Linked DNA regions of Homo sapiens: regions 1, 2, 3, 5 and 6 are each linked to region 4. The links come from fine-mapping of genetic effects on gene expression. A gene starts in region 4. Each other region holds a variant in brackets. All regions are shown on one strand. Distances are between the middles of the regions.

Region 1 (4,940 bases), 270 kb before region 4:
GCCCAGGTGTGTTGGTCAGTTGCTTGTGATGAACGCTGGGCTGGAGTCCACAAGTGCCATTGGCACTGATGTCTTCTAACCGAGCTCCTTGTGTCTGTTTACTAATTATGTGGGCTTAGTGTAGACTTCCTCTAGGATGCAGCCTGGGAGTTGGTGCAATGGTCTGATTGCAGGGAGGTATCTTTGCATGCCCAGGACATGCCCCTGGGTGCATATCCTATGTGAGCAGCTCTCCTCCTGGCCCCTGGGGATATTGGCTAGCATGGGCCCTATGCTTTCCAGCATCTTCCGGGCCCTGCATGTAGCTCGAAGTTTGTGCTTCATTTCCTCCTCAGACTGGCTGGCCCACTCTGCTGCTGTGCTCCAGAACCTCTCCACTGTGTGACCAGTTTGAACACCCAACCTCTGCACCTATCGTCTGGGTTAGAACCTTTCAGCAGCCTCACAGGAAAGCTTTGTGCCCAGTCTTCCACAGCCCATCTGCACGGGGACCAACTGCTGCCAGCCTTGCAGAGCAAAGGTGGCCAGGACGGCTGGCCACAGAAAAGGGTGCAGACATGGGGAAGGCTGGCTAGAGTCTCATCCAGAGAGGAGAGCCCATACTTGTGACCCATTCCACATTCTCCTTTACCGGGCAGTTTTTTGTTTTTTTGTTTTTTTTAAAACAGCATCTCACTCTATCTCCCAGGCTGGAGTGCAGTGACACAATCACAGCTCACTGCAGCCTCGACCCCTGGGCTGGAGTGACCCTCCTGTTGACAGCTATTGTGAGGCCTTGGTTCTTGTCTTCTTGGTTTAAAAGAATTTAAACAAGAGACACACAGCAAAAGAAGTGCAGCATAGAGTCATTTACTGTAAAGAAAAGAGTATTTTGAAAGTTAACTATATATAGGCTGGGCATGGTGGCTCACGCCTGTAATCCCAGCACTTTGGGAGGCCGAGGCGGGTGGATCACAAGGTCAGGAGTTCGAGACCAGCCTGGCCAATATGGTGAAATGCCGTCTCTACTAAAAATACAAAAATTAGCCGGGCATGGTGGCAAGCGCCTGTAGTCCCAGCTACTTGGGAGGCTGAGGCAGAAGTATTGCTTGAACACAGGAGGCGGAGGTTGCAGTCAGCCGAGATCGTGCCACTGCACTCCAGCCTGGCCAACAGAGCAAGACTGCATCTCAAAAAAAAAAAAAAAAAAAAAGTTAAGTATGGAATAGACAGTGCACTGAGAAACAGCATTCGTAAGGATGAGACAGCAAAGACTGGCGCTAGGGAGGCTCCCTTTCTGGAAGCCTTTCATGATTATTCGTAAGTGGGTGGGAAGAGGCGTTACTAGTAGGCATGGTCTGGGTGGTCTTCTTGGTGCACATGTGCAGTAGTTGTACATGCTTGTTTATACATCGCATGTCTCTTTAGCATCTTTTTTTTTTTTTGAGACAGAATCTCACTCTGTCGCCGAGGCTGGAGTGCAGTAGTGCGATCTCAGCTCACTGCAACCTCCACTTCCCAAGTTCAAGCAATTCTCCTGACTCGGCTTCCTGAGTAGCTGGGATTACAAGCACGTGCCACTACCCCTGGCTAATTTTTGTACTTTTAGCAGAGCCAGGCTGGTCTCGAACTCCAACCTCAAGTGGCCTGCCCTCCTTGGCCTCCCAAAGTGCTGGGATTACAGGTGTGAGCCACCGCACCTGGCATCTTTAGCATCTTAAATCTCCACCCAGGGGTGTATTTTTTACTATTAAAATGAGCAGTGTGTCGGTTTGAGGACAGGTGAAATCAAAATGTGCATGCTCTCTACAGGGGCAATCGCCTACTGAAGACAGCTTTGCTTGAATGAGCTCGATTACAATGTGAATGCTGAGGCTTATTGTGTTGATTGTACAGTCACCACGCTTGCTGCGTTCCCAGAACATGGTCATTTCCTTAACTACCTATCCTGCCTCACTCCCACCCCAGCCTCTTGAGTAGCTGACACTACAGGTGTGCAACACCACACCTGGCTAATTTCTTTTCTTTT[CT/C]TTTTTTTAGACAGTCTTGCTCTTTTGCCCAGGCTGGAGTGCAGTGGTGCAATCTTGCTTCACTGCAACCTCTGCCTCCCGGGTTCATGTGATTCTCTTGCCTCAGCCCCCCGAGTAGCTGGGATTACAGGCATGCACCACCACGCCCAGCTAATTTTTGTATTTTTAGTAGAGACAGGGTTTCACCATGTTGGCCAGGCTGGTCTCGAACACTTGACCTCAGGTGATCCACTGGCCTTGGCCTCCCAAAGTGCTGGGATTACAGGCGTGAGCCACTGTGCCTGGCTCCTTTTCAATTTTTGTAGAGACAAGGTCTCACTATGTTGCTCAGGCTGGTCTTGAACTCCTGGCTTCAAGCCATCCTCCCAAAGTGCTAGGATTATAGGCATGAGCCACTGCACCCAGCCACTACCTGACAGCTTTTAAGCCAAAGCTTAGTGGAATCATGGGAGGGAGAAATCCTAGCGTCAGCAAGTGAGGACTCGGGCAAGGAAAAGGACCTCTCCTCTCCAGGTCCACTTAGTGCCAGAGCTCTGCGCCTCACAACACACTGCTTGTTCCAGGCTCCACTTTTTCTTCTCAAAATGCTTTATAAATGCCTGGTCCCCATCCTCTTTGGAGTAAGGGTTAACGCTATTCTTCAGGTAATAAAATAAGGCACAGACTCTCTTCATATGATCTGGTACAACACCTCATCCCAGATGTGAAATCCTCTTTGCCTAGCCAGGCCATGCTTTCCTCCTCCAGGCAGGCTTCCAGATCTCCAGCTGCAGCTACTCATCCAGTCAGGAGCCAAGAGAACGAGAGAGGTAGACAGGGTGCAGCCTGCAGCCTTCTGCAACCTCCAGCCCCAGAACCCCTCAGCACCAGTTTATAAATGAAAGAGGTTTAATTGACTCACAGTTCCGTATGGCTGGGGAGGCCTCAGGAAACTTACAATCATGGTGGAAGGGGAAGCAGGCACATCTTACATGGTGGCAGGCAAAAGGCGGCCAGAGCAGGGAAAACTGCTTTATAAAACCATCAGATCTTGTGAGAACTCACTCATATCACAAGAACAGCATGGGGGAAACCGCCCCCATGATCCAATGATTTCCCTTCCCTTCCTTACAGGTCCCTCCCTCGACACCTGGGGATTACAATTAGAGATGCGATTTGGATGGGGACACCGAGAGAAACCATGACAGGGGCTCTCCAGAGAAGCAGCCCAGCCTTGGGCAACTTAGTTCTCCCATCTGACCATCCAACCCAATAAGGCTGCTGACTCACATAGGACCAGGTTAGTGTTTTTCTTAAAGGCACTACCTTTTTGTGGCTAATTTTTAGAATTTATTTTTATTATTATTTTTTTGAGACGGAGTCTCACTCTGTTGCCCAGGCTGGAGTGCAGTGGCGTAATCTTGGCTCACCACAACCTCTGCCTCCCGGGTTCAAGCAATTCTCCTGCCTCAGCTTCATGAGTAGCTGGGACTACAGGTGCATGCCACCACACCCTGCTAATTTTTTGCAGTTTTAATAGAGATGGGGTTTCACCGTGTTAGCCAGGATGGTCTCTATCTCCTGACCTCGTGATCCCCCTGCCTCAGCCTCCCAAAGTGCTGGGATTACAGGCGTGAGCCACTGTGCCCGGCCGCTAGAATTTAATTTTTATCAGATATATAAATACTAGTTTGAAGTCAAGTAATACTACAAAGCTTATAATGATGAACAGCAGCTCCCTGACTCACCAAACCCTTGCAATTCTCAATCCTCAGGAGTAATAACTCTCAACTCTTAGAGCTCTTTCTTATGGTAATTAACTATTAATTCATGCTCATACTGTTATTTTATTGGTTTTCAGGTTTCAGATATTCTCCACTAACTAGGAAGATGATTTTGCTTTCAGACCACACAGACACTCATCGCCCCTCTTGCCACCCATCCTTTAAATTTGATTGTTTTTTCCTTCTGGGGTTCAATCAATATTCATTGTTTACATTGTTTTAATTATGCAAATATCACTACTTGAGGCATACCACATACTCTAATTACATTTCTGTTAGTTTTCCTTTAACTGAAAACGTCTTAATTTCACCTTCATTCTTGAATGATATATTTGGTGGATATAGAATTTTGAGCTGACAGTTCTTTTCTTTCAACCCCTAATGATGTTCTACTGGCCTCTATGATTTCTGATGAGAAGTCCAAGTCATTCAAATCCTTGTCTGCCTTAAATTTGTTGTTTTCTCTGTTTTCAAGATTTTCTCAGTTTGCTTTTTTTTTTTTTTTTTTTGAGACAGAGTCTCGCTCTGTCACCCAGGCTGGAATGCAGTGCTGAGATCTTGGCTCACTGCAACCTCTGCCTCTTGGGCTCAAGCAATTCTCTGGCCTCAGCCTCCCTAGTAGCTAGGATTACAGGCACCTGCCACCATGCCTGGCTAAGTTTTGTATTTTTAGTAGAGACAGGGTTTCACCATCTTGGCCAGGATGGTCTTGAACTCCTGACCTCAGGTGATCCACCAGCCTCGGTCTCCCAAAGTGCTGGGATTACAGGTGTGAGCCACTGCGCCCAGACTATTTTGCATTTTTAATAGTTTGATCATGAGGTGCTTAGGCATAGTTCTCTTCAAATTTATTTTGTTTGGGGCTTATTGAGTATATTTATTTATTTATGAGATGGAGTCTCACTCTGTCACCCAGGCTGGAGTACAGTGGCATGATCTCGGCTCACTTGCAACCTCCACCTCCTGGGTTCAAGCAATTCTCGTGCCTTGGCCTCCCAAGTAGCTGGGACTACAGGCATGCACCACCATTTTTTTGTGGCTAATTTTTGTATTCTTAGTAGAGATGGGGTTTCACCATGTTGACCAGGCTGGTCTTGAACTCCTGATCTCAAGTGACCTGCCTGCCTCGGCCTCTCAAAGTGCTGGGATTACAGGCGTGAGCCACTGC
Region 2 (4,940 bases), 300 kb before region 4:
TGGCCCCTATTTTTTTTTTTTTGAGACTAGTCTTGCTCTGTCACCCAGCGGGGAGTGCAATGGTGAGATCTCAGCTCACTACAACCTCCACCTCCCGGGTTCAAGCGATTCTCCTACCTCAGTCTCCTGAGTAGCTGGGATTACAGGCGTGTGCCACCACACCTGACTAATTTTTTGTATTTTTAGTAGAGACAGTGTTTCACCGTGTTGGCCAGGCTAATCTCAAACTTCTGACCTCAGGTGATCCACCCACCTCGGCCTCCTGAAGTGCTGGGATTACAGGCATGAGCCATTTTCTTTCTGCCCAGCTATTTTTTTTTGCATTTTTTGGCTAGACGGGGTCTCACCCTGTTGCCCAGGCTGATCTCAAACTCCCGTCCTCAAGCGATCCTCTTGCCTTGGCCTCCCAAAGTGCTGGCATTACAGGCATGAGCCACTGCACCTGGCCTTCGCTTTGAATTAAAGTGGCAGGCAGGAAGAAGCATCATCTCAAAAATTGATGGTGACAGCGGCAGCGACTACATCTAGCTTGCACAGGTGGCAGCTTCTGTCCCACTTCGGTGGTGCCAATTGTAGCTTCTGTGCCAGCAGAGGCTGTGGGGTCTTCACCTGGCCAGCTTTGCCCAATGTCCTCTTCCTGATTTGATTTTCTGACCCTTTTGAGCTCCTGGGAACTAGCCAGGACCTCTGACCAAGTCCCTTTCTGCTTAGAGTTGCCAGAATTAGTTTCTGTTGGTTAAAACTAAGAACCTTGATTCTCACAAAAATAGGACCAGGACTGGACAGAGCAAGAAGCCCCAAAGGAAACAGGAGCAATTGAAGGCTGGAAAGTGGCCAGAGGACAGTGAAAATCCAGCTGGTATTAAGGGACAGGACACCAGCAGCCCCATGGCACGCCCTGGCAAGACAGCTAATCCCATTGTCCCCGGGAACAAAGTATCCATCAAAGGCAAGGCTTTGGGGGACCTAATGGCTCCTGCCATAGAAGAGAATAAAGATTACACTGAAGTCAAGATCTGCTGGGCAGGGCGGTCATGTTAACAGCGCCACATAGCTTAAATGAAAAGACAAGCTCAGAATCCAAATTCTTGGCTCAAGGTATGGTTAGAAAACCCGAGTGTGCCTGGCCAAAATGGCAAAACCCCGTCTCTACTAAAAATACAGAAATTAGCCAGGTGTGGTGGCAGGTGCCTGTAATCCCAGGTACTTGGGAGGCTGAGGCAGGAGAATCGCTTATATCCAGGAGGCGGAGGTTACAGTGAGCTGAGATCACACCACTGCACTCCAGCCTGGGCGACAGAGTGAGACTTTGTCTCCAAAAAAAAAAAAAAAAACCAAAACTCGAATGTGTTATTTTGCAGCTGAGAGAGCAGAAAAAACTGAAAACTTGATCCAATGGTTACAGAATGACCAAGGGGACCCACACCTTAAAAGGTCTTTATTTGGGAAAGAGTGAAATGTGGAGACCAGAGGCTATGAAAATTAGGCTGTGTGGAAAGATAGGGAAGCCTTAGGTACCTAGCCCCTCCCCTCCCCACCACCCTTGCCAGCCAAAGCTTCCTCTTTGTCACTGAAGATCCTAGTAGCAGGAACTCCCTTGCGGGCAGTTAGGTGTTCTATGTAGCTGAGGTATGGCCTGCAGCGACGGCTGAGTCTGTTTCTACACTGCTATAAAGAAACATCCAAGGTTGGGTGCGGTGGCTCATGCCTGTAATCCCAGCACTTTGGGAGGCCGAGGTGGGCGGATCACCTGAGGCTTGGAGCACGAGACCAGCCTGACCAACATAATGAAACACCCTCTCTACTAAAAATACAAAACTAGCTGGGTGTGGTGGTTCACGCCTGTAATCCCAGCTACTTGGGAGGCTGAGGCAGGAGAATAGCTTCAACCCGAGAGGCAGAGGTTGCAAAGAGCCGAGATCACGCCATTGCACTCCAACCTGGGCAACAAGAGCAAATCTCCATCTCAAAAAAGCAAACACCGAGACTGGGTAACTTATAAAGAAGTTTAATTGACTCACAGTTCCACACGGCTGGGGAGGCTTCAGGAAACTTACAACCATGGAGGTAGGGGAAAGCAGACACCTTCTCCACAGGATAGTTACGAGGATGTAAGCACGAGAAAGAGGAACTGCCACGCTTTAAAACCATCAGATCTCGTGAGAACTCACTCACTGTCACGAGCACAGCATGGGGGAAACTGCCCCCATGATGCAAGTACCTCCACCTGGTCCATCCCTCAACCCGTGGGGATTGTAATTCGAGATGAGATCTGGGTGGGGACACAAAGCCTAACCATA[T/C]GGGTGGGACGGATGGCAGTTATTTCCAGGGTGGGCTGTAGCCTCTTCCTCCAACCTACATCTCCTGTTTCCCAAGCTGGTAACCTGGATGCCCTGGGTGACCTAAGAAGCCATGTGCTAAAGATGTCAGGACCTCAGTCGGCCGGGGTTCCCCCTTCCCCATTTCAGTTGAGGGAGGAAGAGCCTTTCAAGAGCGAGAGCTAGCCAGCAGCTAGCATTTCCCTATGTAACACACCCTGTAATGACCCTGCCCCGAAGGAGTCTCCTTATAAGCCCTACCCCTCATTTTCTCCAGAATTAAATGACAAGTCACATCCCCGCAGGCCCCAGGGGCCAAATCTAGGAGGGTACTGAATCATCAAAAAACTCCAGGGGGAAGATACTGAATCACCAAAAGAAACTAAAGATTTTGCTAATTGATATTGGCTTACTCACAGTACATGGTTGGCTAAAAAATTTTTTTAATTGATATTGGCAAAAATCTGGGAAGGTGATCTGAGAATGAATTCTGAGGGTGCAGGATGGGTGAGGGAGGAAGGGGATGCTAGATAGGGATGAATGTACCGATATTGAGGATTCCACAGGGACAGCTTGAGAAGCTGGGATTATAGGCGTGAGCCACAGCGATAATGTAGTACTTTCAGTGCTGAAATCAGGATAGTGCCAGGCAAACTCGGACAATTGGTCAACCTAGCTGTTAAGTAACTAACTTGCTCTAAATCACAGTTATTAAGTGGCAGGGCCTGTATTCAAATGCAGGTGGGCTGACTTCAGATTCAAATTGTTTGCTTTTGCCAGTGGTTCTCAATCTTGAGCATGCAAACCTGGAGGCCTTGTTAAAATTCAGATAGCCCCATCTTCAGGGTCTCCAATTCAGTAGGTTGGGGCCGCCGAGAATTTGCCTAACCAGCTCCCTGGTGATGCTGAGGCTGCTGGACTGGGAAGACTGGGAACCAACTGAGAAGACCTTTGTATTTGGCTTTCTCACCTCCAGATAAGGGCTTTTTAACTTTTATTTTGTGAGACAAGGTCTCAATCTCTCACTCACGCTGAAATACAGCTTATGATCATGGTTCACTGCAACCTCAAACTCTTGGGCTCAAGCAATCCCCTGCCTCAGCAATATGAATAAACATATTGGAGGCCAGGTGTGAGACTCCACCTCAAAAAAAAAAAGTAAAGGAATAGGGCTGGGCGCGGTGGCTCACGCATATAATCCCAGCACTTTGGGAGGCCAAGGCAGGCAGATCATCTGAGGACAGGAGTTCGAGACCACCCTGGCCATCGTGGTGAAACCCCGTCTCTATTAAAAGTACAAAAAAAAAAAAAGCCGGCATGGTGGGGGCACCTGTAGTCCCAGCCACTCGAAAGCTGAGGCAGGAGAATCGCTTGAACCCAGGAGACGGAGATTGCAGTGAGCCGAGATCACGCCACTGCACTCCAGCCTGAGCAAGAGCAAGACTCCCTCTCAAAAAAAAAAAAAAAGTAAAGAAATAAAACAATGGCTACTCCATAGAGCAGCCCCGAGGGCTGCTGGTTGCTCATTTTTATGGTTATTTATTGATTATATGCTAAAGAAGGGGTGGATTATTCATGCCTCCCCTTTTTAGACCATATAGGGTAACATTCTGGCGTTGCCATGGCATTTGTAAGCTGTCTTGGCGCTGGTGGGAGTGTAGCAGTGAGGACGACCAGAGGTCATTCGCATCACCATCTTGGTTTTGGTGGGTTTTGGCCGCGGCTTCTTTACTGCTTGTGCCGGCCTCTCATCTCATCCTGTGACTTAGAATGCCTCCACCACCTGGGAACACAGCCCAGTAGGTCTCAGCCTGATTTTACCCAGCGCCTACTCAAGATGGAGTTGCTCTGGTTCAAAGGCCTCTAACAGAAGCTAAACACAGGTGGGGGCTTTCAAAGAAGCAGATCCAATGCCCACTGCCCTTCCTCACTCCCCTAATAGATGTAGGGCACCATGGACTTTTACAGACTGAGGGACATACTCTGGATGAGAATAGTTTACCCTATCAAGGAAAAGTAAGTTCCCCAGATGAAACGCCACAGATAACAGGCATATTGTAAGTCAGGCTTTGTACGTTTTCCAAAACTCACTACAGGGATCCCCTTTGAGGTGCAGAATCTTGTATCACAATAATCACGATTCCTTGGCCAAGGCCTTTTGATGTCATGGTCCGTGTTTTTCTCCGGATCGTTGGGCATGCGGAGGCAGAAGGAGAGCCTGGCAGAGTGAATGACAAACGCAAGGGAGGCTGCAGAGGGGAGGGAGTGAGGGCGGCCCAGGGCCCAGCCCGGCGGGAGCCGAGGAAGAGAAGGACCAGCCAGCCAAGGGCGGGCGGCTCCAGAGGAGGCCCGGGACTCCCCAGTTTCCCAGCCTCTTCCACCCCACGCGGATCCCTGCCCCGACGCTGATTCAGGGGGTCAAAGCCTCGGGCGGGGCGGACCGCGGCGGTGACTGGAGGCGCCCCAGTTTCTCTGGGTGTGGCCTGCGGACCCCCTCGGGAGCAGGTCGTCCCGCACCAGTGTCTGCCCCCGGCCCCCAGGGACACCTGCACCCGCCCCACTCACGACGGCGCGTCAGGTCCCCAACCAGGCGTGGGGCGGGGTGGGAAGGTCTCGGTTCGG
Region 3 (4,940 bases), 23 kb before region 4:
TTACCTTAGGGATTTATTTCCTGTCGTGACTTCTGTCTGTGTGGCTACTTTATTGGTTAACATTATGGGTTCAACTTATCACAGTGCAGTGACCAAGAGAAACACAAAGAGATTTCTTCTGTATAAAATGGGGCGATGACAGGGGGGATTACTTGAGATAATGGTTATAAAGCACCAGTAAGACCTGCTAAGTTGTAGTTGTTGCCAGTATGACTATGTTAAAATGTAGGGGTTTCTCAGTTGAGGACTGAACTCCACTCAGTGAGAGTGGAGAGGGGTCATAGAGCCACTGCCTGGCTCGCCTTTTCCCAAAGAAGCAGATGGAAAAATGGCATGGGGGCATCCCCTCTGTGCTATCTGACTTTATGGGGGGTCAGCCTGATCCTTTGGCTTTGGCGTGACGAGTGTGAGTCATCCCCCCAGGCCTGCGCGGTCACCTGGTGTTCTTAAAGAAACTGTAGCACAATCATGACAGCATATGTTCTTGTCCCATGCACACCTGCCATTGACACCATTGGTGTGCTGAAGGCTGCCAGCCCCAAACTCAGCCAGGTACCCAAATCTAGGGGCAATGTGAGAAAAGGGATAAGGCACTTAGATGGCTCATCCCCCTTTCATTCATTCATTCATTCATTTGCTCACACGTTTCCTGAGCACTGACATTCTCTTACATCTAGCGCCGTATGGGATACCAGGGATGAAAGGTGGAATAGCGCATCTTATAGTCAGGCTGCATGAAGAGCGTGAGAGTAGTAGAAACAGTGTTTTGGGAGTACTTATATCACCATCGCAGAGGGGGAAAGGCATCTGAAAGGCAAAAAAGGCCTGTCTGCTATTATTTGAGGGCTGTCTCTGACACTCGTAGGACTGGAAGAAAGAAAACCGTCTATGGATGACAAAGAAAACTGCTAAAATTCTTTTAGCATTTGGGAATTGTGGACACTGAGTTCACAAAATCTTTTCCTCTTCTGTATGAAAATCTGACTTCCAGTGAACTTCTTAGCTCTGTTCCCCTGGAAATCTGATACAGGTAGACTGTCACCTATGGCTCTTAGTAACATTGCTGATGATGAAAATAAAAATGACTGCTGATTGTTAGATTGCTTCTGGGCAGGATCAAGGGGGTAACAGGACTACACAGTAAACAGCTGATGGGAATGCTTTGTAGCAAATTTTTCTTATTTATTTATTTATTTATTTATTTTTTGAGACGGAGTCTCACTCTGTCGCCCAGGTTGGAGAGCAGTGGTGCAATCTCAGCTCACTGCAAGTTCTGCCTCCTGGGTTCATGCCATTCTCCTGCCTCAGCCTCCGGAGTAGCTGGGACTACAGGCACCTGCCACCACGCCTGGCCAATTTTTTGTATTGTTTAGTAGAGACAGGGTTTCACTGTGTTAGCCAGGATGGTCTCGATCTCCTAACCTCATGATCCACCTGCCTTGGCCTCCCAAAGTGCTGGGATTACAGGTGTGAGCCACCGCGCCCAGCCTCTTTTTTATTTTTTGAGACAGGGTCTCATTCTGTTGCCCAGGCTAGGGTATACAGTGGCGTAAACATAGCTCCCTGCAGCCTTGACCTCCTGGGCTCTAGGCATCCTCCTCCTGCCTCACTCTCCTGAGTAGCTGGAATTACAGGTGTGCACCACCATGACTGGCTGATTTTTAAATTTTTTGAAGAGGGGGAGGTCTCACTGTGTTGCCAAGGCTGGTCTTGAACTCTTGGGCTCAAAGTGATCCTCCTGCCTTCCCTTCCAAAGTGCGGGGATTACAGGCATAAGCCACCATGCCTGGCCATGTAGCAGCTCTTTTCTTTTCTTTTTTCTTTTTTTTTGGAGATGGAGTTTTGCTGTTGTTGCCCGGGCTGGAGTTCAACCACGCGATCTCGGCTCACTGCAAACCTCTGCCTCCCGGGTTCAAGTGATTCTCCTGCCTCAGCCTCCTTAGGAGCTGGGACTAGAGGCGTGCGCCACCACACCCGGCTAATTTTTTGTATTTTTAGTAGAGACAGTGTTTCACTATGTTGGCCAGGCTAGTCTTGAACTCCTGACCTCAGGTGATCCACCCGCCTTAGCCTCCCTAAGTGTTGGGATTACAGGCGTGAGCCACCATACCCAGATGTGGCAGCTCTTAAAACAGCAACTCACATGTCACTTGCAGAAACACTGGAAGGCATGCCTGCAGAGTTGTTACCAGAGATGCTGAC[T/C]CCTGCAGGTCATGGGCTTCTAAGCCTGGATGACCCACACCCACCTAATGGGAGCCTCTTTCTCCAGCACCTGTGGCTCTGACAAAGAGAGTATCTCCTGGATGACTGCGAGGACTCACCCTGGAGGGAAAGGTTTGGCGCTGCTGACATCCTTCTAAGTAACTGAATGACAAGTGTGGCCTAGACCTGTCCTGTGAGTCTGAGTCCTTAAACCTAACAAGATCCCCCATTGTATGTTGTAGGGACATAGAAGTGGTGTCCAGGCATCTAAGGGGAAATGACTTGTAGCCCATCCCTGCTAAATGGGCAGTGAGGGAAGGCAGTCATCAGAACAGGCGGCATAGATGGAGACTGTTGTGTGGTGGGCACACAGAAAGTTGAAGTTAGTTCTGAAACTAAAAAACTAAAATTGAACTCAGTTCTAAAACCAAGGCAAGGCCGGGCATGGTGGCTCATGCCTGTAATCCCAGCACTTTGGGAGGCCCAGGTGGGCGGATCACTTGAGGCCAGGAGTTCAAAACCAGCTGGCCAACATGGTGAAACCCTGTCTCTACTAAAAATGCAAAAATTAGTCAGGAGTGGTGGTGCATGGCTGTAATCCCAGCTACTTGGGAGGCTGAGGCAGGAGAATCGCTTGAACCTGGGAAGCAGAGGTTGCAGCGGGGCGATCTCGCTCACTGCCCTCCAGCTTGGGTGACAGAAAGAGACTCTGTCTCTAAATAAATAAATAAATAAACTAAGACAAGAATCAAGCCTTTCTGAGACACTCGTGCCCCTCTCATAGCACCAGTCATGCAGGTTTGACCCAAAGCGCCCCCGCAAGGCACACTCACCTTCACTTGGTAGCCTTGAGTTACCAGGAAGTTTGAGCTTCTGATTTTTCCGTGGAGTTCAGGTGCTTCTGAATGGTGTAGCCTGACACAGCCAAAGGCGGGGAGCATAAGTACCTTTGCCCAAACTTTCTTTGGGGGACTGACAATCATAACTGGGCTGATGAGGCTGGACAGTACCATGGGTGCCTGTCCACAGTTACACAGGAAAAACTGGGATGTAGAGGCAAGGTTTGAGAATCACAAGCCGTGAGTATAGAACAGAGATGAGATTCATAGCACAAGGGGGCATGACAGCCCTTATGAAGTGCATGCAATCGGGCATCAGGGGTGCCTTTAGGTAGAGAAGGACAACGTTGCCTCTGTGTTGCTTTGCCTGGGAAGTGCTGGGCAGATCCGAGAGCTCAGAGGCATGGCTGGGTGGCTGGACCTTGCTGGGACCCTTCAGGTCAAAGCAGAATGTGAAGCTGGGGTCCCGCTGACTTCCAGACAAGGGCTTTGGTTTCACAAAGCCCCTGCGTCCCAGGTTGGGTTGCACTCATGGTGTCTGCCTGAGCTCAGATTCTCCCAGAAGCAGATCATGAGCCATGATTTGGGCACGAGGGATTTGTATCAAGAAGGTGCTCCCTTGACCAGGCATGGTGGCTTGCGCTTATAATCCCCACACTTTGGGAGACCAAGGTGGATGGATCACTTGAGGTCAGGAGTTTGAGACCAGCTTCGCCAACATGGTGAAACATCATCTCTACTATTAATAAAAATACAAAAAAATAGCTGGGCGTGGTGGCATGTGCCTGTAATTCCAGCTATTCAGGATGCTAAAGCATGAGAATCACTTGCACCCAGGAGGTGGAGTTTGCAGTGAGCCGAGATCACGCCACTATACTCCAGCCTGGGCAGCAAAATGAGGCTCTGTCTCAAAAAAAAAATAACTCCAAAAGTCCCCCAAACAAACAAAAAGAAGGTGCTCCCAGGAGAAATGGTTGAGGGAGTACAGGAAGTAGGATGGCGAAGGAGAAGAAATCAAGCAAGAGGTTGATTTCAGGTGAAATCCCAGGCTCAGGTGGTCTCGCGGAGACCTGTGGGCACAATTACACCTCAGAGTGTGTCCCACAGGAAGCAAAGGAACTGGACTTTTATACTTACACCAGTCAGTGGTTATGGACTGTGTTGGGGAGGGCAGGGACAGATGGATATAAAACTCGTGGGCACTTTCAGCTGTCTATAAGGGTGAAAGGGCTCCAGTGCCCACAGGCAATCCTCTGAAGATTGCAGCTGTGAACTTTCAGCAGCAAAGCATGCCGAGAGGGGGATGGGTAAATAGAGCTGGTAAAAAGGATCAGAGGTCATTTGGAGGGGATATTAACAGTGTCCCCTACAACATCCAAAAATACTTCTCCTTAAACTCACTAGTTTAGGGAGTTGAGAAGAAACAAACTTAATTTCAAATTAATAGCTAAGACAGTGTTTCCAAAAGTGTGGGATAAGGTGGTATGCAAGATTATATAAAGGGAAAATTACTCTCCTTTCAGTTTGCTCCAGTCTTTCTGATTACATCAAGAAGAAAGTCTGCGTTTGGTATTTTTTTTTTGTTTTTTTGTTTTTGTTTTTTGTTTTTTGTTTTTTTATGAGACGGAGTCTCGCTCTGTCGCCCAGGCTGGAGTGCAGTGGCACAATCTCAGCTCACTGCAACCTCTGCCTCCCAGGTTCAAGCGATTCTCCTGCCTCAGCCTTACGAGTAGCTGGGACTATAGGTGCGTGCCATCACGCCCAGCTAATTTTTGTATTTTTAGGAGAGACGAGGTTTCACCGTGTTGGGCAGGATGCTCTTGATCTCTTTACCTTGTGATCTGTCCGCCTCAGCCTCCCAAAGTGCTGGGATTATAGACGTGAGCTACTGCGCCCAGC
Region 4 (4,940 bases):
GCTTTAAAACATGAGTAAGGCACTGGCAGAAGTGAAACTAAATAAATGAGCAATCGATATAGTTGTGTTTTTGTTGCCTGAGAGTTACAGTGATTGGGCAAGGGAGGTAACAGTTATTAGGGCACTCCTAAAAAGACTAGTGGATCTCAGACTACCCAGCTATTCCCACGTGCTAAGCAGATATCTTCAAGGCCATTTCTTGGGAATTGTGAGGGCAAAAGGTTTTACACTTTCTCTGTTGCACCAGAAACAGAAGCAAATGTGGCAATGTTGTTCAAGGAATCTTGCAAATTGTAGCTTCCTAGCTCTAAGCTCCAGTTATCTTACCAGCAGCCTCATCAGAAAGCCATATCTCAGCACTGAACTAATCAGAAAGGAAAATGGGGAAAATATCCCACCCATAGAACTGACAAACAATTTCAAATAATAAATTATACAGTGGTGGCATGGTATGAAGAAAATTGCAGCGGTCACATTGGCTCATGCCTGTAATCTCAGCGCTTTGGAAGGCCGAGGCAGGTGGATCACCTGAGGTCGGGAGTTTGAGATCGCCCGGCCAACATGGTGAAACCCCATCTCTACTAAAAATACTAAAATTAGCCAAGCATGGTAGCAGGCGCCTGTAATCCCAGCTACTCGGGAGGCTGAGGCAGGAGAATTGCTTGAACCCGGGAGGTGGAGGTTGCACTGAGCCGAGATCACACCACTGTGCTCCAACCTGGGCAACAGAGCAAAACTCCGTCTCAAAAACAAAAACAAAAACAAAAAAAAAGAAAGAAAGAAAATTGCACAAAACAAAGCTTGAAGAAAGGAGGAAAGAGAAGTGTTATATTTCTGGCTGGGAAGACTAAAACAGACCAACCCAGCAATCCTTCCCAAATTTAAATCCAATTTAATGCAGTTCCAATAAAACATCTACTGACATATTTTGGCATTAAATCAAAATGATCCTAAAGTTCATTTGAAATGGGAAATTAGTAGGGATAACCAGGATTTTAAAAAATAAAGAAAAGGGGACTTGCCTGTATGAAATTAAAATATATTAAAAACTGCAAAATATTGGGAAAAAGCACCCTACAATAACTTAAATTGTTTAAGGTCTTATTAAGTATATGATCTACAAGGGAAGAAAGGGAATATACATATATACACACTTAGACTGGGCAATTTGAATTTCTAGGAACTTATGATGTAGAAAAGCTTGTGTTTGTAGATAGATGGCTACCGAGATGTTCACTGCAGTGCTATTTATAATATGTAAAACAAACAGCTAAGAATATGTTCAGGCCAGCTGCAGTGGCTCACACCTGTAATCCCAGCACTTTGGGAGGGTGAGGTAGGAGGATCACCTGAGCCCAGGAGTTTGAGACCAGCCTGGGTGACAAAGCGAGACCCTGGCTCTACCAAAAAATACAAAAAAAATTTAATTGGGTGTGGTGATGTGCACCTTGTAGTCCTAGCTACTTGGGAGGATCTGGTTGGAGGATCACTTGAGCCCATGAGTTCGGAGGCTGCAGTGAGCTATGATTGTGCCACTGCGCTCCAGCCTGGGCAACAGAGGAAGACTCCATCTCTCAAAATAAATAAATAAAAAGAAAAAGGGGATTATGTTCATATGTTACGATGAGAAAACAGGTTACTAATTTTAAAAGTGAAAAATCTTTAAATGGTAATAACAATGCAAATTCACCTCTTCCCTCCAAAAAATAAAAAATAAAAATAAAATAAAATAAGTAAAGGTTATCAGGCATTTCCCTCTTCTCTCTCTCTCACTCTGTCTCTCTCTCACGCCTTCAGCCTGCAAACCTGAAGACTTCCTTTTTCTGAGAAGACATCAGGTAACTTGTTCCCGTGCCCCTGCCCTCCACGACCCCCACTGCTACTGGGCGTCTCGCTTTGGCGGAAGGTAGTGCGAGATCCGAGCAGGCAGCTCCACCATCAGAGCTGAGGAAATGAAACCAACTCGGTCCTGAGTTCCAGGAACTCGGACCGGGCCACCCTCACCCCTGGTTCTTCCCATCACCGTCCAGGAATTCGGCTGCAGCCCCTCGGCCCCGCCGCCTCCTGGGAAGACCCCATGCTCACCTTCGCGCCTCCCGAGGGGTGTGCGTCCAATCTGTCCCGTGCACAGTTCCAAAAAGCTCGCTCTTCCACCTTCTTTCCCACGACCGCCTCCTGCCCAGGCGAGAAGTTTGCAAACGCGAGGCCCGCGGGAGTTCCCCTGCGCCCCCTTTCCTGGTGCCCGCACCCTGCACTCTGCTGACTGTACCGGACGCCACACGTGGCTGGCGGCGACAAGGCGCCCCGATCCCTACCTGAGGGAAACCCCGGCCACTGCAGCTGCACTTGAGCAGGGTCCCTCCACTCAGCCACTTGGATGGCTGTTTCTGTCCAGTGCCCTCCGGAGGCCACTGCCTCAGGTCTGTGATGCCTGCAGAGAATGCTGCGACACTTCCCCCTCCGACGTGGCTCCAGCTGCCAACCACCAGGCTCACGGTGCCCTGGCTCCCTGGAGCCGCTTTCTAGGCAGCTCGGAGCCACGGCCCCTCCCTTCCTTCCTCCTGTCCTTTCCACACTCTTCCTGCCTTCCCCAAAGTCACTGGGTAACTACGCTGTACACGTCAGTACCAAGCCTTCTTTAGGGGCTGGGGATTCAGAATAGAATAAGGTCCCAGCAACTATTATAACCAGGACACAGTATGAGAAGGACTGGAAGTTTAGAGAAAAACTGAAAGTTGGAGAGAAGCTTCTGGTGTTTGCTTCTCTGTGCTGGATAATATTGGCGGGGTGGGGAGGGTACGAGGGAAGAGACACCAAAGTGGGAAAAAAGTCACTTCCTCTTCTAAGGTCATTGCAGAACATCCTGTTACAGTGTGAGTCAGGTTTTCTTAAGATTAACTACATCTTCAGCTAGAAAGTCTAAGTAGTGTTATGCATTTACTCAACAGACTATTTGCCTCTAAAAGAACAGAACTGGGAGCTGGGTGTGGTGGCTCATGCCTGTAATTCCAGCACTTTGGGAGGCGGAGGTGGCCAGATCACCTGAGGTCAGGAGTTCAAGACCATCCTGGCCAACATGGGGAAACCCTGTCTCTACTAAAAATACAAAAATTAGCCAGGCGTGGTGGTGCATGCCTGTAATCCCAGCTACTCGGGAGCCTGAGAGGGGAGAATCGCTTGAAGCCGGCCTTGGAGATTCATTTCTTCGCCTTGCTATTGTTCTTCGTCTCCTGCATCATCAGTTTTCTTCCTGTCTTAGGTGAAGAGATTGAGGTGAGGCAGGAGAATAGGGTCTGCAGGCAGGGAACATAAAGCTGATTCACGCTGACTTCTTAGAACTAAATAAAATGGACACATTTCAGCTATGACAGGAAATATTTTCTTCATTTACATATGGCGTTCACTGAGTAAGTGACTGAGCAACTTCACTTCATCTTCTTCATTTACATAGGGTGTACACCAATTAACCAATGGGAGCCTCTAGAGGGTATTTAAATCCCAGAAAATTCTGTAACGGAGTTCTTGAGCCCCTATGCTCACGCTGGCTCCCACCCTGTGGAGTGTACCTTTGTTTTCAATACATCTCTGCTTTTGTTGCCTCATTCTTTCCTTGCTTTGTGCATTTTGCCCATTTCTTTGTTCAAGATGCCAAGAACCTGGACACCTTCAACAAGTAACACAGGTGCCTGTGATTTATTGAAGGAAGACTCTTAGGAGAGTGGTGGGTATGATAGGGCAGAGGAAGAAAAAGTGAAACAAGTATGTAGTCAGTGGAGGCTCCATGGGGAGGTCTGGAATGTGAAGGTCTGGAACAAGAGGCAGCCTCCTTTCTGCCCAGGGCAATTCTTCTGGACGAGGGGGAAGCTGTGTGAGTGTTTAGCTGTCAACACTCATAGCAGCTGCAGGATGGGTATACTGATCTGCTATAAACAAAATCATACAATGTATAACCTTTTGGAAGTTTTTTTCTTTTCTTTTCTTTTTTTTTTTTTTTACTGTCCCACCATCAATGTACAAGACATTCAGTTTCTCTGCATCCTCAGCAGCATTTTATTTTGTCCCTGCCTGAATTTTTAGCTATTCTAACAGGTGAATAGTGATATATCATCATGGTTTTTTGTTTTGTTTTGTTTTGAGATAGAGTCTTACTCTGTTGCCCAGGCTGGAGTGCAGTGGCGCCATCTCAGCTCACTGCAACCTCCACCTCCTGGGTTCAAGCGATTCTCCAGCCTCAGCCTCCCAAGTAGCTGGGACTACAGGCGTGCACCACCACACCTGTCTATTTTTTGTATTTTTAGTAGAGACAGCGTTTCGCCATATTGGCCAGACTGGTCTCGAACTCCTGACCTCAGGTGATCCACCCACCTTGGCCTCCCAAAGTGCTGGGATTATAGGCATGAGCCACTGCGCCTGGTCTCATCATGGTTTTAATTGGCATTTCTTTAGTGCCTGGTGATGATGGACATGTTTTCATGTGCTTGTTTGCCATCTGTATAGCCTCATTGGTGAAATGTCTGTCCATGTCTTTTGCCCATTTTTAGTTGAATTCTTTTTAAAAAACTTGAGTTTTGAGAGTTTAAATATTCTAGATATTAATCCTTTGCCAGATAGGTGGTGTTCAAATGGTGGTGGAGTAACTGAACAAAAAAATGAACTTCACCTAAACCTCATATTCTATGCAAAAATTGCCTGAATGGATCAGAGATTTAAATGTAAAATGTAAAACAAGGAACCTTTTAGAAGAAAGCAGAGAGAACTGTGCAGAATGAAAGGACATTTCCTGTTGAGAAAATGTAAATGTTTGAAAAAAGTTTAGGGCCGGTCGCAGTGGCTCACGCCTGTAATCCCAGCACTTTGGGAGGCCGAGGTGGGCGGATCACGAGGTCAGGAGATTAAGACCATCCTGGCTAACACGGTGAAACCCCATCTCTACTAAAAAT
Region 5 (4,940 bases), 160 kb before region 4:
AAAAAGCATAATTTATTTTGAGTTTCCATAGTATTCGAATCTGTTTATATAAAGTGAATTCTGTGTGCCTATAACTTAAATATTATCAATTTAGGTAGCAAAACATGCTAGTTTTAAAATAAACAGATGTTTTCTATCCAAGGATAAAGAAAAGGCAATAAAGAAAATAGAACACATCAAGTAGCCACACCTAGCATTATTTCAAGAAGAAAAAGGTTTCCCTATGGAATTATTAATTCCACTGCAGAATTCAGTAGGCATTAGCAACATACAAACTCATTTTTATACTTACAACATATATTAAAATTGACTTTAATTAGGTTGCTAGGTAATCATAAGATTCTATTATATAACACAGTACTTTTGAACTTTCTCCCTACTTGTCTAATAGCAGATACTTTAATGCCTTTTTAAGGTGCCTTTCTCAGTCTCAGAAATCAGCCTCCATGCTGAGTCGACCTAGCTTAACTCTGTTCCCACCACCTCAATCTGAAGTTTAACTTATATCTCTTAATAGTTTATTTACAAGAATGCTTTTTCTTAGACAGTTTTCTACACTATCCTTTTAAAATCTATCCTTTAAGTTTTCCCAATCAATTAGCAATTCTAGCTCTTTCTCAAACAAGGGATGGAAGGCAATTAATATCACAATCTTCTCTACTTATACTCATTTCTACTAAACAACAAATTTGGATTAAAGGTGCATTCTTGAAAGAAATTTAGAGCATTGGAGAATTTTCAAAATAATGTCAAATAAGATGTAAGCTCCCCATAGAAAGAAATGTATTGTCATGTTTAGAGTCCACAGGACTATATTAGCAAATTAATTACTGTTTTAATGACTTGCTTCCCTACAGCGGGAGACTGGATTATTTCTCCCAATTTTTCACTTGCATAGGATTTTACATCCAGATCCTCTGTTTTGTAAGTCTGTACCGCCTCCTGCTATAAACTGAGTATACACCCGGCTCCGCTGACGTTGAGCAAATCAAGATAGCAAAAGAGATGAAAAGCAAGCACTGCAGTCCACATTTGCAGTTAATTGAGTCTCCATGGATGATGTCATTCCTTCCTAAGAGGTGCAGTACTGTGTGCTTAGTAATACTGTTAATGTAACATAATATAATATAGGCCACTGACATGCTCAGGCCAATGGAGTTTTAGGAGATACAATATGAGCAGAGGATTTAAATGTGCCTGGGTAGTTTGGCCTGTATTCCTGCACCCCTGCCATTCCCCATGAGAACATGGTAGTACAAAGAAAAGAGACATGTGGAGCAGACCTGAACTTAACCCTCAACCTGTAGCCTGAAGCAAAGCCATCTCGAATAACCCATGGGAAAGAAAAACAAGCCTCGAGTTAAGCCCATGAAAGTTTGAGGGTGTCTGTTATGAAGAAAAAATGACTAATATATCTATCAAACAAATAAAATAAAAATATCAAAGCCTTTAAATTAGAACCTGTAACAGCTATGATCTAAAATTAGTGAATTATATTGGAAAGCACAGAGCACTACTGTACCTTTCATGAAGAAATGACATAATCCATGGAGACACAAAAGTGCAAATCTGGACACCAGTGCTTGCTTTTCATCTCTTTTGCTATCTTGATTTGCAACTGACTATAAATGCGTCTTATTTTTGCATTCATTCATTCATTTAGTTTTGAGATAGAGTCTTGTTCTGTTGCCAGGCTGAAGGGCAGTGGCACCATTATGGCTCAATACAGCGTCCACCTCTTGGGCTTAACTGATCCTCCTGCCTCAGCCTCCCTAGTAGCTGAGACTAAAGGTATGTGCCATGATAGCTGGTTAATTTTTTAAAATTTTATTGTACAGACCGGGTCTCGCTATGTTGCCTAGGCTGATCTCAACTTCTGGTCTCAAGTGATCTTCCTGCCTCACCTGCCCAAAGTGCTGGGACTGCAGGCATGAGCCAGTATGCCCAGCTTTTTCCTAGGTTTAGTTTCTCTATGCAGAAAGAAAAGATGACAGAATAGGAATGCCGTAAAAACAAGGTTATGATGTTAGGTCTTTGAGATTCATGGAACCAAATCGCTATGAAGAATTGTTAAGCATAATTGTGACAATTAATTTCAGAAATTTAGAGGGGTTTTTAGAATCCAAGAACACAGTGGTGATTTAGAGGAAGAGAAGAGAGAGAACGAAATATAAAATACAAAGGAGTATTTTATACTACCCGGGGAATGGTGGGTGCATCAATAATGTCAGAATAAATGAACTCGAGAAAGTAAATAAAAATAATAAATAAATAAAAAGAAAACACTATGCTTCAGCACTCAGTCATGTGATAAAGAACCAATGAACAGAAATCTCAAGGAACGAAAACAGATGCAGGTGCTGATTC[G/A]GGTTTGGTTCTCATACTGCACCATTCTCATTATGTCCCAATTAAACCACTTCATCAGATATAGTACATCTATTTCCACAAAACTTTAAGTGCAGACAGGCTCACTTGTCTCTAATCCTAGAAGATGAATAGCATGAGGAATAACACCCATAATTACTAAAATAAGATAAAACTGAGGATTTTTTTTCTTCCTCTTTGGTAATAATTAGTGAAATAATGCTCTGAGATGATCCCAAGAAATTAGCCAACAAGTATATATTGAATAATGATGATGAACTCAAAATTGTGCTAGGCATTGTTGCAGGATACAAAGACAACATTCTATCTGGTCTCTAATCTCAAGTTGTTTACAATCCAGTTATACAGTTAAAATAGCGAAATCAAACAAGCAAGAGGAGGGACTTGAGATAGGCCTAAAGAATTAGAAGAGTGATCTCCAAAAAGGAGTGGAGTGATTCCTCAAGGAAGAAGTTACATGATCCCTTGGGGGTCAGGAAGAAAATAACAGAGCTTCTGTTTTTAAAAAAGCTTATCCTTTAATTTATGTTTTAACGTATTTTTATAATGCATATAACATGGGTGTAACTAATATTTTATGAGTATGTATCTACTGGGGGAATGGTTACTGATTTTTCAAATGATAGGAAGAACATGACCAAGATAGAGGAAAAAAACTTCTTCTCATCATTAAGATTCCTACCTCTACCTGCATTCTTCAAACCAGGGGCAAAGTGCTGGCTCCTAGCCTGTGGAGGCATCAAATTAGAAGCTGAGCTATGTCACATTATCAGCTACTCCTTATCTGGAGATAGAAGTCTGGGCTTCAAAAAGAAGGATCTCTTACATCAAGTATTTACTCATTGGAAATAAAACTGTCCTCTTACTATGGAAAACTGTAAGAAAAAAAGTTATGAAAAGTATAATAAATAGCTGCTAATTTAATGACCAAATATGAGAGAAATGATTCCTGACATTGCATATATTAGTATCAATAAGTAAACTATTATAAACAGAAGAATGAGAAAATGAAGAGAATTTAGCACATCCCCATCCCAATGCATCAGTGACTAAAACAGAGAAGGAACTTGGGTAATGCTGTATAAATGATACAGCAAACAAAGGCAGTAAAGGGAAAAGCACCAAGTACTTGGAGACACCTGCTTGACTTCAATAAAGAACATGATGAGTGTATCAGGAAATGGTTAAAAAACAAAACAAAAAACCTCACAAAAAACAGAAAACAAAAAAGAACCCTGCCACTTTTCTATAGTAGTTAGCAATAGAAGTGTGTGACTTTAGGTACATCACTTAACTTCTCTAAACCCCTAACAACAGGCTTTGAACTAGAGTGGGAATCCATGAACAGGCTTTGGGAGTCTGAGATATCCTGAAATTGAACGCAAGCATTTGTGTGTATGTATATTTTTCTGAGAAGAATATCCACAACAGCTATCACCATCTCAAAAAGATCCACGAGACAAGAAAAAATTAAGAAATACTGGTCAAACATTGGTTGCGGTTCTTTCCAGCTTTATGAGTCCATAAAATCTGAGATGTGGAATTTAAAAATGTACTTACTGAATTTCAAGTTTTTTTAATGCAGATAATTTGTATATTATGATGGTTACTACTGTTTCACCTTAATCTCTCCTAGTCAAAGTCACAACAAACAGGTTTCAGAATAAACTACTGAAAAGCTTGAGTCTGAATGTTCTCAAATCAACTACCGCATTCACTTAGGAGGAAGGTTTTTACAGAAAGTCTGGAACTATGATTTCCCCAAGGTGAACAGGCTGAGTTAATGAGTCTGGAAGGAGAAATTAAAGGATTCATAAAGCTATCTTGGAAGGTGTCCCAGTTTCTGAAACAGAAATGCTTGGGAGTTGGATGTTGTCTAAAATATGGAACATTCTACAGTTTCCACTGAAGCTGAACTACATCAGATCACATAAAGGAATAGGGTCCTTTTTCTAAGATAACTGGTACTAAATTAAGTGACAACCAACTTTGTTTTTGAATCCCTCAGGAGAAAACAAACAAAAGATGCCAACAGTATCAGTGCTTTTACAGCCTTAGAAAAATTTGAAGTCACGCGATAACCTAATGCCTCCTTTCAATTGGAGACACTCTGCTGCAGTATTAAGTCAAGTCTTCTGGGAGTTTATTCATTAAGAACCCAGTAACTTCCCATCACACGAACACTTCATTTATTAACCTTGTCCAAAGCCCCAATGACAATGAAGATAATGTAGCTGGTCTCTAACAAAATAAACCCAATCTTTTACCCCCGGGAAACTCTCCTGAGCAAGTCTAAATGCAATCTCGATCCTCAGGTTTAGAACTGCTTTCCTCTTAGTGCCTTATTCTGGCTCTATCAGAATTTATTTTTCTTATTTGTACCCAGGGATAGTGGCTGAGTATTGTTTTTCCAAAAGGACAGTGATCAGCACAGGCTTTATGCCTTCCAACAATGTTCTGATTCACTAAAGAGTTGTAGCTGCTTTTATTTAAGTCTTTAGCATTCAACTACCTTTTCAAAAAGGAGTTACTGTACAGGTCCAACGGGAGATTTT
Region 6 (4,435 bases), 30 kb before region 4:
TATATGAATGGACTTTATTAAAATGTTTTTGAACTTTGGACTAGTAGGAGATCACTTTGTGCCATATGAATAATCTTTTTTAGCTCTAGAACTTTTTTTTTTTTAGACAGGGTCTCGCTCTGTTGCCCAGGCTGGAGTGCAATGGCATGATTTCGGCTCACTGCAACCTCCACCTCCTGGGTTCAAGTGATTCTCCTGCCTCAGCCTCCTGAGTAGCTGGGATCACAGGCACGTGCCACTACGCCCACCTAATTTTTGTATTTTTAGTAGCGGTGGGGTTTCACTATGTTGGCCAGGCTGGTCCTGAACTCCTGACCTCAGGTGATCCACCCGCCTTGGCCTCCCAAAGTGCTGGGATTATAGGCGTGAGCCACCGCGCCCGGCCATAATGTTCATGATCTTGATAGAGTTTGGATTACTCATATGTATGCATTTGTCAAAACTCATCAAATGCTATCTTTAAGATTTGTGCATTTCACACAAATTTTTCACAGCAAAAACTTACCTTCCCACCCCCCCGCCAAAAAAAAGCTCATAGAGAGATAAACTCCAGTTAATGGCATAAATGCTGAAGTGTTTAGGAATGAAGTGCATAAAAAATCAGGATGAATTAATGGCTAGAAAGAGGCACAAGCAGATAAATAGGTATGTGATAAAACAAATATAATAAATTGTTAGTTGTAGAATTTAGGTGGTAGGTATATGGTTGTTCAGAGTACAATTGTACTGACTTTTCTGTGTATCTGGAAATTTTCATACATAAGTGTTGGGAAAAATCAGGTACAGGGCCTTGGAAGGCATCCTGTGCAAGTAAAAGGCCCTGAAGATTAAGCTTTATCAGGCTTATAGTAAATTCACCTATAATAATTGTGGGTCTGCCAGAGTATGAATAATTCATCTACCAGGGAGAATTTTCACTGTAACTCCTACAGTAAATAGAACAAATGATTTTAAAGATGAAAACAGTGGCTGGGCATGGTGGCTCATGCCTGTAATCCCAGCACTTTGGGAGGACAAGGTGGGCGGATCCCTTGAGGTCAGGAGTTCCAGACCAGCAGACCCTGCCTCTGAAAAAAAAGAAAAAAGAAAAAAGGAAGGAAGGAAAATAGTAAAATAGTAATACCTGCCAGTAAGTTCTACAAAATAATCATATTAAGTTTATATTCTTCTGCATTTTTTATTTATAGAAAAAAACCATGTTCTAGGTTTTAAAAAAATCAAGGATAAGTAAAAGATAAAAACATAAGGCCGAGTGTGGTGGCTTATGCCTGTAATCCCAGCACTTTGGGAGGCCAAGGTGGGAGTATCACTTGCGCCCAGAAGTTCAAGACTAGCCTAGGCAACACAGTGAAACCCTGTCTCATAATAATAATAATAATAGTAATAGAAATCAGCCATAATTTTCTTCACCAGAGATGATTACTAGAATACAAGACCCAAATGTATTTTTATTGCTGTCTTCTCAGTGATTGAAACAATGGACAGCACATTTGCTGTTGAATGATTTAGAATGAGTTCTGAAAAAAATGTAACTTTAAAGACAGGGATTAGTGTATCCTAGGCAAAGCACACACCATGAACAAAGGTATAAGATCTAAAATGAGACCAGGTGTGGTGGCTCATGTCTGTAACCCCAGCACTTTGGGAGGCCGAGGTGGGCAGATCACTTGAGGTCAGGAGTTCGAGACCAGCCTGACCAACATGGTGAAATGCTGTCTCTACTAAAAATACAAAAATTAGCCAGGTGTGGTGGCACACACCTGTAATCCCAGACACTTGGGAGGCTGAGACAGGAGAATCGCTTGAACCTGCAAGGCGGAGGTTGCAGTGAGCCGAGATTGCGCCACTGCACTCCAGCCTGGCCAACAAGAGTGAAACTCTAGGCCGGGCGCGGTGGCTCACACCTGTAATCCCAGCACTTCAGGAGGCCGAGGCGGGTGGATCACCTGAGGTCAGGAGTTCGAGACCAGCCTGACCAACATGGTGAAACCCCCATCTCTACTAAAAAATACAAAAAGTTAGCCGGGTGTGATGGTGAGCACCTGTAATCCCAACTACTTAGGAGGCTGAGGCAGGAGAATCGCTTGAACCCAGGAGGCAGAGGTTCCAGTGAGCCAAGATTGCACCACTGCACTCCAGCCTGGGCGTGACAGAGCAAGACTCCGTCTTAAAAAAAGAAATCTAGAATGAAAGCACCACAAACATGGGTTTGAGTCTGGCAGGGATTAAAATCTGGCAGCTCCTATGTGGACATATTTTGTTTGTCTTATCAGCATTAAAATAATTTTTTTTTTGAGACAGGGTCTCACTCTGTCACTCAGGCTGGAGTGCAGTGGTGCAATCATGCCTCACTGCAACCTCCGCCTCCCAGGTTCAAACGATTCTCATGCCTCAGCCTCCCGAGTAGCTGGGATTACAGGCATGTGGCAGCCACACCCAGCTAATTTTTGTATTTTTAGTAGAAACAGGGCTTCACCATGTTGGCAAGGCTGGTCTCGAACTCCTGACCTCAGATGATCCTCCCGCCTGGGCCTCCCAAAGC[G/A]CTGGGATTTCAGGCATGAGTCACCGTGCCCAGCCTAAAATAATTTTTAATGAGATACTGACCTTTAAAAATAAGGACATCACAGAAAAATCCAACTTTCTAGCTCTTTTGACAAAATGGAAAGCTCTAGAAATGTTGGGATCCCATTCTATGTGACAAAGTATAGACTGGAGTTGAGGAGACGCTGTTCTTGCTCATCTGCCCACTGAAGCCCCCTCCAGGTTCAAATCATTCATTTAGTTTCCTTCCTAGGCCCTATGGGTATTAGAGTTTGCAATCTCTGGTAGGAGAACTCTGGCATCTGATTGGAAAGTCAGGTTGGAAAGTATGGTATGGGGGATATCCATAAGGCTATGGATATCCAAATAGGAAGTTTGTACTTGATTCCTTGGGCAAGAGGAAGAATTGAACAGTTTCTGCCTAGTTACTTCTGTTGTGTAAAAAACCACCACAAAACTTAGTGTTAAGACAACAGTAATTTATTTAGCTCCTGATTGTGTGAATGGGCAATTTGGGCTGGGATCTGCTTGAGTGGTTCTTCTGGTCTTGATTGGCCTCATTCATGTGTTAGCTGCCATGTTGGTTGGGCTAGTATGACTTCAGCTAGGAAAGCATGTTTCTGCTTCATGTGGTCTCTCATTCTCCAGCATGCTCACTCAACATGTTCATGGCTGGGTAAGGTTCCAACAGACATTTATAAGGCCTCTTGAAACCTAGGCTTGGAACTGGCATACAGTCACTTCTTCCACATTCTATTGATCAAATCAAGTCACAGTGCCAGCCCAGATTCAAATGGTGGGGAAAGAGACTTCATTTATGGAAGGGAGGAGCTGCAAATTTCATTGCCAAGAGGTGTGGATACCCAGAAAGATACATTTGACAAACCATCTATCAAAGTTACTGTCAGAGGTATGTTTTTGGAAATATCATTTGGAGTGGGATGTGTCCTGTATGACTGGAATCGTTTTCTATTTGTAACAGAGAAGCGTGCCCACTCCTTGCACCCATAGATAACCCAATGCCGAAGGATATGAGAGAGAGAGATGTCCAGTTTGTGCCTCTCCCAGCTTCTTGTCCAGAGACTCCTTGGTTTAGATTTTGATACACTACTTAGAAAAGGTGGAGAGTTTCTTTAAGATTTCTGTGGATGAATGAACAGAAAATTAGACCAGGGTAGGCAGCTGAGAGCCAAGTTAGAAACACAAAGACATTTCTACATTGCACAGTCATTTAGAAACTGCATTCCCCCTGGTCTGGCTGGTGCCTGAACCACCATCAGCACTCACACATTTGGGATATAAAGTTCTCTTACTTGATCAACTTTTAAAACACAAACACCTCACAGGAGGGGGTAAACTCACATCTTAGTATGAATTACTCTCTGGTGTTAGATTCCTTAATACTAGGAGGACCCTAGGTTGTAAGGGAGCTTGGTAGAAGAAGAAAGAAGACAGAGGAGAGAGTGTAGTGGAGGACAGCATTGTATAAATCACTGTTGGCTTCTCATCCACCCCAAAGACCAATTTTTCAGAACACATCATTAAGTCTGCGCTTCTGCTCTGTGGTGGTGAAGAGAAAGTTTCAGACAGAAACTATGCCGTGACTTTGATTCTTCATTCTGAAAGGTAGGGATGTGGATGAAGGGAGAGGAGAGATGACAGATGAGACCCTCTCAGGTAGTGTGAGAGGTTTTCCCAACAGACCATCTGTGAGAAGGCCTTGAAGAACAGTCCTCATGCTCAAGACTTCTGTAAGCAGACAGAACATCCTTGGAAGCTGCCTCAAAAGTCTGGACTCATGGCTCTTTAGTTCCTTCTTCTTTTCTTTCTTTCTCTTTTGAGACAGAGTCTTGCTCTGTCACCCAGGCTGGAGTACAGTGGCGCGATCTTGGCT

Which allele goes with the higher level. Alleles are on the strand shown, and positions count from the first base shown. SD is a standard deviation of normalised expression in the study named. Not every link is listed here.
With allele C in place of T in region 2, the expression in macrophages after interferon gamma of the gene that starts at base 2,495 in region 4 is lower (large effect, 0.88 SD a copy in Alasoo 2018).

Evidence for each region. PIP is the estimated chance that this variant, and not a neighbour inherited with it, causes the effect. A credible set is the group of variants that fine-mapping cannot tell apart.
Region 1: its variant is the best candidate, but not a certain one, in a credible set for the expression of MLKL in whole blood (INTERVAL, PIP 0.68).
Region 2: its variant is the best candidate, but not a certain one, in a credible set for the expression of MLKL in macrophages after interferon gamma (Alasoo 2018, PIP 0.67).
Region 3: its variant is the best candidate, but not a certain one, in a credible set for the expression of MLKL in monocytes after interferon gamma (Fairfax 2014, PIP 0.90).
Region 5: its variant is the best candidate, but not a certain one, in a credible set for the expression of MLKL in whole blood (TOPMed, PIP 0.61).
Region 6: its variant is the best candidate, but not a certain one, in a credible set for the expression of MLKL in whole blood (TOPMed, PIP 0.85).

The regions. Positions count from the first base shown.
Region 1 is chr16:74,431,321-74,436,260 of GRCh38, forward strand. It overlaps LOC107984827 (a long non-coding RNA gene), which reads left to right. Exons shown (of 3, transcript XR_001752253.3): 2 at 3,123-3,288; 3 at 3,850-4,252. Among named protein-coding and RNA genes, the nearest start is that of CLEC18B, 12 kb to the left of the region's middle. RefSeq lists an enhancer at 1-442. The variant CT/C (reference allele first, on the strand shown) is at 2,009.
Region 2 is chr16:74,402,164-74,407,103 of GRCh38, forward strand. LOC105376772 (a long non-coding RNA gene) reads right to left here. Exons shown (of 2, transcript NR_135170.1): 2 at 4,126-4,536. Among named protein-coding and RNA genes, the nearest start is that of CLEC18B, 17 kb to the right of the region's middle. The variant T/C (reference allele first, on the strand shown) is at 2,301.
Region 3 is chr16:74,675,864-74,680,803 of GRCh38, forward strand. MLKL (mixed lineage kinase domain like pseudokinase) reads right to left here. Exons shown (of 11, transcript NM_152649.4): 7 at 3,036-3,117. Among named protein-coding and RNA genes, the nearest start is that of RFWD3, 11 kb to the left of the region's middle. The variant T/C (reference allele first, on the strand shown) is at 2,203.
Region 4 is chr16:74,698,368-74,703,307 of GRCh38, forward strand. It overlaps MLKL (mixed lineage kinase domain like pseudokinase), which reads right to left and starts at 2,495. Exons shown (of 11, transcript NM_152649.4): 1 at 2,086-2,495. RefSeq lists an enhancer at 1,949-2,398.
Region 5 is chr16:74,533,785-74,538,724 of GRCh38, forward strand. All of the region lies in intron 1 of GLG1 (golgi glycoprotein 1), which reads right to left. Among named protein-coding and RNA genes, the nearest start is that of GLG1, 71 kb to the right of the region's middle. The variant G/A (reference allele first, on the strand shown) is at 2,368.
Region 6 is chr16:74,668,856-74,673,290 of GRCh38, forward strand. It overlaps MLKL (mixed lineage kinase domain like pseudokinase), which reads right to left. Exons shown (of 11, transcript NM_152649.4): 11 at 3,000-3,683. The coding sequence ends at 3,649. It also overlaps the pseudogene TMPOP2. Among named protein-coding and RNA genes, the nearest start is that of RFWD3, 4.2 kb to the left of the region's middle. The variant G/A (reference allele first, on the strand shown) is at 2,543.